Regions from separate parts of the Homo sapiens genome. Here regions 1, 2 and 3 are each linked to region 4. The links come from fine-mapping of genetic effects on gene expression. A gene starts in region 4. Each other region holds a variant in brackets. All regions are shown on one strand. Distances are between the middles of the regions. Region 1 has its middle 3.9 kb from the start of LINC02437. Region 2 has its middle 8.1 kb from the start of LINC02437. Region 3 holds the start of LINC02437 (long intergenic non-protein coding RNA 2437). Region 4 holds the start of HELT (helt bHLH transcription factor).

Evidence for each region. PIP is the estimated chance that this variant, and not a neighbour inherited with it, causes the effect.
Region 1: its variant is fine-mapped to the expression of HELT in sun-exposed skin (GTEx, PIP above 0.99). The same link has a PIP of 0.9 or more in testis.
Region 2: its variant is fine-mapped to the expression of HELT in unexposed skin (GTEx, PIP 0.93).
Region 3: its variant is fine-mapped to the expression of HELT in unexposed skin (GTEx, PIP above 0.99).

The regions. Positions count from the first base shown.
Region 1 is chr4:184,984,095-184,986,778 of GRCh38, reverse strand. No RefSeq gene overlaps it. Among named protein-coding and RNA genes, the nearest start is that of LINC02437, 3.9 kb to the left of the region's middle. RefSeq lists an enhancer at 2,490-2,684. The variant A/G (reference allele first, on the strand shown) is at 1,565.
Region 2 is chr4:184,979,948-184,982,631 of GRCh38, reverse strand. No RefSeq gene overlaps it. Among named protein-coding and RNA genes, the nearest start is that of LINC02437, 8.1 kb to the left of the region's middle. The variant A/G (reference allele first, on the strand shown) is at 1,252.
Region 3 is chr4:184,988,224-184,990,907 of GRCh38, reverse strand. It overlaps LINC02437 (long intergenic non-protein coding RNA 2437), which reads right to left and starts at 1,561. Exons shown (of 2, transcript XR_001741949.1): 1 at 1,442-1,561. The variant G/A (reference allele first, on the strand shown) is at 1,175.
Region 4 is chr4:185,017,343-185,020,026 of GRCh38, reverse strand. HELT (helt bHLH transcription factor) reads right to left here and starts at 1,537. Exons shown (of 4, transcript NM_001300781.2): 1 at 1,072-1,537; 2 at 536-640; 3 at 184-280. The coding sequence starts at 1,098. RefSeq lists enhancers at 548-1,127, 1,128-1,706, 1,707-2,287.

The sequences.
Region 1 (2,684 bases), 33 kb after region 4:
TAAGGGGTGCCAGGCCTGCAAGCTAGAATCCATGAGCCAGCCCTGATAGTGAGATGCCCACCTTATAGAGGCCCTTCTTCCTGCCATCCTCCCTTTAAAACTCATTTTCATTCCCCAAGGATTTCTTCATTGTCTTCTAGGAGCTTAGGCCTGGGGATGGGGACAACAGAGAGACCTTGAGAAACTTAACATTTCTGTTGAGCAAATGACCATCTCCGCACAAGCCAGAGAAAGGAAAAGGAACAGCCAGGCACTGAGCCTTGGCCAGGAGAGGGCTGTGCTTCCTTCATTTTAATTGAGCCTTGTGAACATCTTCTGAGGTAGATGTTACTCTTCCCTTGAGAAGGCAGAAGCCCAAGGCCGAGAGAAGTTAAGTCACTTGTCCAAGGCCACATGCTTAAGTTGTGGCAGAATCAGGATTCAGCGTTGCTCAGATGAGGTGTAAGAAGGCGTGGCACATACAGGTAGACAGGGCCAGACCTGGGGGAAGAAGGAAGGTGCACACCAGGCTGGAGGAATCCGGGACTGTGGGGAGAGCCGTGGCTGGGAGGCAACATAACATCCAAGTTCAAGTCCTGGGTCTGTGCCGTTAGCCTTTTTGGTTTTCTCAAGTGAGGACACTGGAAACGATGCTCTTTTAGCTGTGAAGTTAATGAATCCACTTCTAGTTAGGGGGTGAGACTTGAGCAAGTCTGGGAAAGAGATTAGAAGGCAGAGGCAAGCAGGAACAAAAACCAGAAAGTGAAGAAAAGCTTGTGTGCACTCAGAAAAATATCCAGCGCTATCTGGCAGACACCATGCTGGGACCTGTGCGCATCACAGGGAACAAAACAGAGCCAAGCCCTGATCTTCATGAAGGTTACACACTTGAAGGGAGACACACAAAACTGAAAATATTAGAAGGTGATGAGTGTCAAGGAAAAAAAAATGCAAAGGAAAAGGAACCAGGAGTGGGGTTGTATCCTAGATAGGATGGTCAGGGAAGGCCTCCAGTGAAGATGATATTTGAGCAGAAACTTGAAGATGACCGAGAAGTGGATGGGGTAGATTCTGGAGTATCCTGAGCAGAGGAGCAGCCTGCGTGTAGGTGCTGAGGTGCGGAGACGCTGTGGTTGCCATCTTCAGGGAGGGACAAGGAGGCTACCAGCAAGTGGAAGGTGAGGGAGGAGGAGAGTGAAGAGATGAGGCTAGTAATGTTGACCTCTTTCATTATGCAAAAACTTGGGGAGAAAAGTTCAGTGGTATAGGCATTCTATTTGTTGGATACAAATATTAGAAATTTTAAAATAAAAAGTTTTGTGACTTAGTCCAAAATTCTAGAGGACACGGGCCTCGGTCCTTGGTTAGACTCTGTGTCCAAGAAACAAATAGCATCCCAAGAATTGCCTCTCCCTCTCCCTGGGGACCTAGGTACCATGTCTCTCTTCTGCTCTCTCAAGGATATCCAAGGCTCTGCGCATGACTGAAGCATGCACAGACAATGGTTGGTAACATTTGTCACATTTTTACGTTGCTTTACATGACTTTTGTCAACATTGATGTGGAAACCAGACTGTCTAGCATC[A/G]CATGAGTTGGTTGTAAAAGCCATGGGTTTCTTGTTATTTAGAATGGCTTTTCCTAGCACTGGACTCCTCTGACTTTACCACTAATGGTGTGCTCTTGATCCAATCACTTAAATCACTCTGAGTGTTGCTTTATTTGTCTATTAGGTGGGTGGGTGTAGACTAGATGATTAGTAAAGTTCCTTTATTAAACAGATCTGAAAACCCCCTGTTCTACCCTTTCTAGCAAACAACATTCCTTTCACCCAGTGTCTCTCTTCTCAGAGGTCAAACTGGTAATTATCCATCCCTTTTGCCTGTGTGTACGACATGCATAATTCATAGGTAGCCTTGCAAAATGGAAACGGGTGTCCATTCCCTGGTCCCCACATGACTAGTGCTCATGCACCAGAAAGGTTACCAAGGACAAATTCTGTTTTTCTTCCACCTCCAGCCCCTCTCATTTCTACCAGCCCCCAAGACGTCTATATAATAATCAATTGCAAGACTATTTATCACCCATTTATACAATGTTAGATCCTGTAGTTCCATAGCCTCATGTGACAGCTAAGGACACTGAGGCTCAGAGAGATGGCTGACTTTCCCAAAGCCACAGAGACATGCCATGGGGCCGGAATGAAACTGCAGTTTCTGAACACGAGCTGAGATTCCTTCCCCAACTTCTTGTTGCCTCTATTTTGCCAAGTACTAACCGTGCCCTGCAAATTATAAGATGTCTAAAAATACGTTTTAAGGATGATGATGGAGAATTCTGAAAAGAAGCTTTTTTGTTTTGTTTTTAAATACGCCCTCATAGATCCAATGCAGTTGAAACGGCGATCAAAGCCAATTTCCCTAGAAACACCAGATCGAAAACACGTGGTGAGGCTCTGATCTGTAGTGCTTCATCCTAAACAATACATTTTACAAACCCTGAAAAATAAAGAAAAAGGAAAGACTCAAAAGAACATTCTGGGCCTGTCACGGTTGCTTTTCATCCCTTTTATCACTAGGTGTCCCCTTGGTTTGCAAAGCCCATCTGGAGGGCTGCGTCCCTGCACATCCTTCCCGGAGTGCAGGTGCGGGGAAGAGTCAGCCACAGTGGGAAGCTTCCTGCCCGGTGGGCCGTGGAGGGGCGGGGCT
Region 2 (2,684 bases), 37 kb after region 4:
CATACAGGCAGGAGGCAGACAGCCCGAGAGGGCCAGAGGCGGATGCCAGGTGCATCCAGATGTTACCTGGAGCACTGGCATCAAACCTGCAAAGGGGTCTAAGGTCAGGATTCCCGTTCCGGGGAAGGGTGTAGGGAGCAGGGCAGGAGCTCTGGAGCAGGGGCAGGGAACTGAGGCAGATACTCCAGCATGAGGAGCAAAACAGGACTCTGTTTCCTGGTACTGGGGTATAAGGCAGAAGGCCCAGTGTTCACAGCAAGGTTAGAGAGAGTCAGAGTGGGCCCTATAGCTGGCTCACTGGATGCTGGCTGCCAAGCTACTTATTGGTCCTTCCATTTCTCCTGCAAGTCTAGAGTTGTAGACTTGCACTGTCCAGTATGGTAGCCACTAGCTTCATCTGGCTATTTATTTATTTATTCATTTTTTAGAGGCAGGGTCTCGCTCTGTTGCCCAGGCTGGAGTGCAGTGGTGTGGCCATAGCTCACTGCTCTCTCAACATCCCATGCTCAAGTGATCCTCCTGCCTCAGCCTCCTAAGTAGCTCGGGCTACAGGCATGCACTACCACACCCAGCTAATTTTTAAATTATTTTTTAGAAATGGGAATCTTGTTATGTTGCCCAGGTTGGTCTCACATTCTTAGCCTCAAGCAATCCTCTTGCCTTAGCCTTTTAAAGTGCTGGGATTACAGGCTATGAACCACTGTGCCCTGTCTTATGTGGCTATTTAAATTTATTTATTTATTTATTTATTTATTTATTTATTTAGCGACAGAGTCTTACTCTGTCACCCAGGCTGGAGTGCAGTGGTGCAATCTCAGCTCACTGCAAGCCTCCCAGGTTCAAGCGATTCTCCTGTCTTAACCTCCTGAGTACCTGGGATTGCAGGTGTATGCCACCACGCCTGGCTAATTTTTTGTATTTTTACTAGAGATGGGGTTTCACCATGTTGGCCAGGCTGGTCTCGAACTCCTGACCTCAAGTGATCTCCCCACCTCAGCTTCCCAAAGTGCTGGGATTACAGGCATAAGCCACTGCGCTTGGCCTTAAATTTAATTTTTAATTAACAAAACTTGAAAAAAATAAATTCAGGTTCTCATTTGTACTAACTACATTTCCAGTACTCAGTAGTGACTTGTGGCTAGTGTATGTGACAGCACAGATGCAGAACAGTTCCCGCCATGGCAGGAAGTTCAATTGTACCACGCTGGGCAGTGCTGAGCTCTGGCCTTTGGGGTGGAGTGATGGGAGTCA[A/G]TGAGGCAGCTTATTCCTGACACTTCAGAGGTCAGGAAGCAGAGAGGTCCTATAGTCGCCTATGTTTTGTGGTGGGATGTAAGAGGCAGCAACAGGACTGCCCTCCCTCACTTCTGCAAAACACTCGTGGTTGCTCCCTTCCATGTGCCAGGATTCCTGAAAGCCCCGTGGACACTCCTTTAAAGCACTGCCTCCAAAGAAGGCCTTGTAAAAATACACGTGTGATTTTAAAATGTTCATGCACTTGGATCCGATGATTCTACTTCTGGAAATATATCCAAAGGATATACTCATAGATATTCAAATAGAGATCCATAAAAGGAATATTCTACATTACATTATTATTTTTCTCGGGTCAGATTTAGGTGGGGTATACTTTACATACAATAAAATTGATCCTTATAAGGTAGACAGCTGGATAAGTTTTGCCAAACGTATACAGTCATGTAACCACCCCCATAATAAAAAAGCTTCCCATCATTCCAAAAAGTTCACCCATGCTACCCTTTGTGGTCAATCCCCTGCCGCAATCCCTAGCCCCTGGCAGCGCTGATCTGCTTTGCAGCTTGTAGTTTTGCCTTTTGTGAACGTCACACAAATGGAATTACAGGTGTGGCCATCTGCACCTGGCTTCTGTCATTTAGCAAATGTTTTTCGATGCATCCATGGTATTGCATTCATGGGTTGTTTGCTCCTTTTATTGGTGAGTAGTATTCCATTGTGTTGTCCTATAGTTTGTTGACCCATTTTCCTATCGGTGGGCATTTGGGTTGTTTCTGGTGTCTGGCAATCAGGAATAAAGCAGCTAAAACATTCATGTGCAGGTCTGTGTGGACCACAGGGCGCAGACATGCAAATGAATGTTGGTCTTCACATGAATGATTCCAGAAGTTGAATCATTTATTTACAGAGCGAGCTTCCAAGAAAAACCAGAATGTCTAACATCTAACATCTGATACCCTAAAGAATGGAGCAACCAAATGTAACCACTGACATTGCATTTTGAAAGGCTACTTGTGGCGTGGAAATATTTCACTTGTTTAGTGTTAAAAAGCAGAACACAGAACAATACGCTTTCAGGAGGAAACAATGGTCATCTCTGGCTCGTGGAGGACTTTTACTTTGTTCTTTCTTGACCATTTCTCTGTTGGGGTCTCTGAGCTGTCAGGAACCAGAAAACCATCCAGGTCTCTTACATGATGAGGTTGACCGTAAGAGGCTGCGGGACAACAAGGAAGGCAGGAAGGAATCTTGTCTGCAGAGGAGGCTGGAAGGGGCCATGTGGATGATGGCAACAGCAGCCCCTCAGAGATCTGCAGGAGCAGCAGGCTGCAGGCCCGGGGGGGCTTCCAGACACCCTGCCTGCTCTGTGCTCTCTCTTCCGTCTGTCCATCAGTCCACAAACTCTGAAGGAGTGACTTCCATCTGCCAGG
Region 3 (2,684 bases), 29 kb after region 4:
TTTCACATTTCAGATTCTGTGAGTCCTCTTTTGCATAAAACATAAGCAAAATATTCATCTGATAGAATAGTTTAACAAATCTGTGGATTGGGGGAAATAAAAAGGCAATTGATTAAGTTGCAAGTATGTCATTGGAAGAAAGAAATGCAACTTGTCATTTATGACATCATTATCACTTCCATATAGCCTGCCCTGACACTGCATAATCTAACCCCTAACACTTCACTGTCAAATCTGAGGCGCAGGTAGTGATTTTGAGAGGTGACAGCGTGCTGGCAGTCCTCACAGCCCTCGCTCGCTCTCGGCGCCTCCTCTGCCTGGGCTCCCACTTTGGTGGCACTTGAGGAGCCCTTCAGCCCACCACTGCACCGTGGGAGCCCCCTTCTGGGCTGGCCAAGGCGGGAGCCCGCTCCCTCAGCTTGCAGGGAGGTGTGGAGGGAGAGGCGCGAGCGGGAACCGGGGCTGCGTGCGGCGCTTGCGGGCCAGCTGGAGTTCCGGGTGGGCGTGGGCTTGGCGGGCCCCGCACTCGGAGCAGCCGGCCGGCCCTGCTGGCCCCGGGCAATAAGGGACTTAGCACCCGGGCCAAGGGCTGCGGAGGGTGTACTGGGTCCCCCAGCAGTGCCGGCCCACCGGCGCTGCGCTTGATTTCTCGCCGGGCCTTAGCTGCCTTCCCGGGGGGGCAGGGCTCAGGACCCGCAGCCCGCCATGCCTGAGCCTTCCACCCCCTCCACGGGCTCTTGTGCGGCCCGAGCCTCTCTGATGAGCGCCGCCCCCTGCTCCACGGTGCCCAGTCCCATCAACCACCCAAGGGCTGAGGAATGCGAGCGCACAGCACGGGACTGGCAGGCAGCTCCACCTGCAGCCCTGGTGCAGGATCCACTAGGTGAAGCCAGCTGGGCTCCTGAGTCTGGTGGGGCCTTGGAGAGCCTTTATGTCTAGCTCAGGGATTGTAAATACACCAATCAGCACTCTGTATCTAGCTCAAGGTTTGTAAACACACCAATCAGCACCCTGTGTTTAGCTCAAGGTTTGTGAGTGCACCAATCGACACTCTGTATCTAACTAATCTGATGGGGACTTGGAGAACCTTTGTGTCTAGCTCAGGGATTGTAAACGCACCAATCAGCGCCCTGACAAAACAGACCACTCGGCTTTACCAATCAGCAGGACGTGG[G/A]TGGGGCCAGATAAGAGAATAAAAGCAGGCTGCCCGAGCCAGCATTGGTAACCCGCTGGGGTCCCCTTCCACACTGTGGAAGCTTTGTTCTTTCCCTCTTTGCAATAAATTTTGTTACTGCTCACTCTTTGGCTCCACACTGCTTTTATGAGCTGTAACACTCACTGCGAAGGTCTGCAGCTTCACTCCTGAAGCCAGTGAGACCACGAGCCCACCGGGAGGAACGAACAACTCCAGGCGCTCTGCCTTGAGAGCTGTAACACTCACCGTGAAGGTCTGCAGCTGCATTCCTGAGCGAGTGAGACCACGAACTCAGCAGAAGGAAGAAACTCCAAACATACCTGAACATCAGAAGGAACAAACTCCAGACGCGCCACCTTAGGAGCTGTAACACTCACCGCGAGGGTCCGCGGCTTCATTCTTGAAGTCAGTGAGACCAAGAACCCACCAATTCTGGACACAATTACATGTGAAAGTGTTAAAGCACCTCTCAAGTCAGAATGAATTCCTTACAGGCCAAGGCAGCTGAAGATGATGTCTCTGGCTTCGTTGCTCTTTTGTTGGTTGAAGACAGGGTATGGGTGACATTTGATTCAGATTGGGTCAGAATTCGGCGCTGTGATGTCGTGCGCAGCTCCGGTCTCCTGTGACTTCCCAACGCAGGGGCTGGAGAGGAGGGCATAGCCTCCAAGCAGCCCTCAGCAAACCAAAGACCCAAGGCAGCCAGACAGGCAAACAATGCTAATTAAAGTGGTTTCCAAGCGTTCCAGAGTATGTGGGAGAAACTATACCCTTGGAAATGTTGAAATGTTTTCTAAGCAAGCACATCCAGTTCCCGGGCAGCTCCAACTTGCTTGGCTCTCATTTGCCCGACGGCTCAGCTGCAATGCTGCCTAGGAAAACAATCATTGAAAGTCACACAGGTAAGGCGTGGTGTCACAAATCAGTCACTCCCTGCTGCTTGCCACAGGGACAAACTGATGACGTTGCAGGAGACACAGATGTCTTTACCTCTGAGTGGGAGACTGATGTGGCCCCACTCTCTCCATAGGAAGCTGTGACCGAGGACAATGCTCGGAGCAAACCTCTGGGTGGTTCCCAGAATGTGGGGTGACCCAGCTGCATACATGAGCCTGTCACACCACCCCGGGCTCCCTGTCACCAGCACTCATCTGGGCGGCACAACCTTCTCAGAGTGGACTGGGAATGTTCTCATCATACTGCATGTATTCATTTTCTATTGCTTCTGTAGCAAATTACACAAACTTGGTAGCTTCAAATGACACAAATTTATTCAGAAGTCCAAAATCGGTTTCATGGAGCTAAAGTAGAAGTGTTGGCAGGACTGGCCTCCTCTGAAGCCTCCAGGGCAGAATCGCTTTGCCCTTTCAGCTTCTAGCAGTCACCCTGATTCCTGCACTTGTGGCCCCTTCTTCTGCCTTCAAACTGTCCCTCCAGTCTCTGCTACCATCATCACAGTCCCTACTCCTGTTCTGTGATCAGATCTCCC
Region 4 (2,684 bases):
TTCTCCCTCGCCGCCTTGCTGTCGCCGAGCAGGGAGAGGCGCCTTCGCAGGACCCCTGCCCTCCTGGAGAGTGGAGCTCTAGTAGAGCTCTCGGGAACACTCAGTCACTCCCCTCCCAGCCCCAGGGTCTCTGGGTGGCGCAGGCGCCTGGCCCAGGCGTCCCATTCCCTAACCTGTGCCCACCTTTTTCCCTTCCCCGGGGAAAATCAGCGGAGTGCAGTGCTCTCAGGTACTGAACGGTCATCTCGAGGATCTCCGCCTTCTCCAGCTTCCCGGAACTCTGCAAAAGGAGGAAGGGCCCCTCGCAGCGGCCCAGCGCCTGCTGGTCGGGCACTGTGGCGCTGGAGAGGACCAGCGAGCGGACGCGGCTGCGGATCTGCGCCAGAGCCTCCTGAGGTTCGCCCTGCGCTCAGGCCCCCCGCCTGGGAGGGGCCCGCAAGTGAGGTCCTCTGTGTCCGCGGGCTCGGGCGTCTCCGCAGAGTGGCCGCAGAGGCCTCCCAACGCCTGGCACCCGGCTCCGGGTCGCCAACGTTACCTGCTTCGCCAAGGCCATGGGCACTGTCTTGCCCAGCTCGTTCAAGCAGCGGTTGATCCTGTCCCTCCTCCGCTTTTCTATCACTTTATGAGAAACGGGGGTTCTCTGCGAAGAGAGGGTTGTATGTTTAGGATGGCTTTGCCCGGGAAGTCGTCAAAGGCGCGGCTCTAGCAGCTGGGTGCAAGCCGCCTCTCCAGCCGCGCACACTGCTCAGATTCGCTCTAGGAAGGGACTCCTGGCCCGCCACGCTCGGGCCAGGTGAGCTCTGCCTTCTGACGCCCGCGCTGGCGCGCTCCCCTTCCAGCCACCCTACCCAGGCCTTTGGGGAGGTGGCCGCCAGCCTCCAGGCAGGACTTCTACCTGGTTGAGCACCCTCCTCTCTCTACCCCACCCCCTTCCCAAACCACTCGAGATTCCTCCACACTCAAAGTCCCGTGCGGGCACTTCCCTGCCATCGGTCCACCCAAGTGGCGGGTCGGTGAGTCAGATGCCTCCACCACCAGGGCGCAAGTGCCATTTGGGCTCAGCCGACTCACTTTGCGTTCCTTGAGCTTGTCTGACATCCTGGTCAGTACGCGCCCTCGGGAGAGGCGGTGGCGCGGGGCACCCGTCCACTTTTCCGCCTCGTGTGCCTCCTCGAGTGTCCCAGGTAGACTGCAGCCTCCCAACTCCGAGGGCTGCCTTATAAAGCGGTCATCTAGGGCTCCAGATGCATTCACGAGTTGAATTATTCCATAGGATTAGGGGAGCTGCGTTTGGAGGATGTATGCATTCAAGATCAGTTTTAAAGAAGTTAAGAAAAAAAAAAAATTAGCAGCCGAGGGGGGCGAGCTGGGGGCAGATCAGCTTTGTTAATCCACGTGGCCCTTCAAAGGACACGTGATCGGCCCAGGAATAACATTTGCATGGCAACAGCTCGGGCGGGAAAAGGAGGCGGTAAACTGGGGCCGGCGGGCGAGCAAGCGCCTGCAGCAGTCGCGGGCGCGGAGCGCAGGGGCGCAGCGGCCGCGGGCACCGGGGGGCGAGGACCCTCACAAAACAGTGTCGCCTCTTTTAGTCCCACCGCTGAGTCTCACATGATCGCCTGTTTACAAATCCCAGCAAGCCCGCCGTCCCAGCGCCGAGTGCGTTTTAAAGCCTGTCCAGAGTCATTAAAGTAATTAAGTAAGCCTTTAATAGGCTGTTCCGCCGGGTTCAAGGGAGAGCTCTTGGAGACGGAGGCGCCCCGTTTGTTCCCAGGCTTTTCTCACACGACTTGGTGACACGTCCTTCTCCCCCCTTTTTGTTTACACCGCTTTATTTGTCCGGACATCCCGGCAGGTGTGGGGCTGCGGCTGGCACACGAGGCTCCCGCCTCGCCTCGCCTCGCCCCTCCCGCCGCTGTTTGGCACGCGACGCTCCCCCCTACTCCCTGACCACGTCGCTGGCTTTCTTTTCTCCCCACCCCTCCTGCTCCCTCTTCGCGGGGGGAAGAGGCTCAATTTGTAGCCTATTATCCTATACGAAAATGTCCATTGAAAAGTATGAATAGTTTCATTGGGCTAAATTTTAATAATGCCAGAGGGTGGGGGAGGAGAGACTGGCGGGCGTGTGTGTGTGTTTGTGTGTGAAGGGGCGGGTGGGAGGATTGGGGGGCAACACGGAGAAGAGTGGGCCGAGAAGAAAAGGGGGAATGCAGCTGGCCCAGGCAAGCATTATGCAACGTCACCTGCGAGAGGGGGCGCCTACAGACCCCTATTCATTTGCCTAATTTTGGTCAATTTAACAAACTTCAGGAGAAATTATTGTGGCTTTGTCAGGGAGGGTGAAGCCTTCTGATCGAATTAACAGCATGTTTTGATCCGGTAAATGTCATTAGAAAGGGAGAAACAATCGCGCTTAGAGGGCTCTGAGTAATGCGCCCAAGTGGAGACGCCAAAGCGCACGGCTCACAAAGGGAGCAAGTAGCTGCCACAGGGAACTTTTGTACCCGCCCATCGCCCAAGTTTTGACACAAAAAGGCATTATTTCATACTTGAATACGTTTAATCCAACGATTGTCTATTTTCTGCAAACATATTTTCACAGCATTGTTAACTTTTTATGTCTCCCTTTCGCTGGCGTCTTTTCTTAACGTTTGGGGGCGGGAGAGCGCAGACACTTTGGGCAT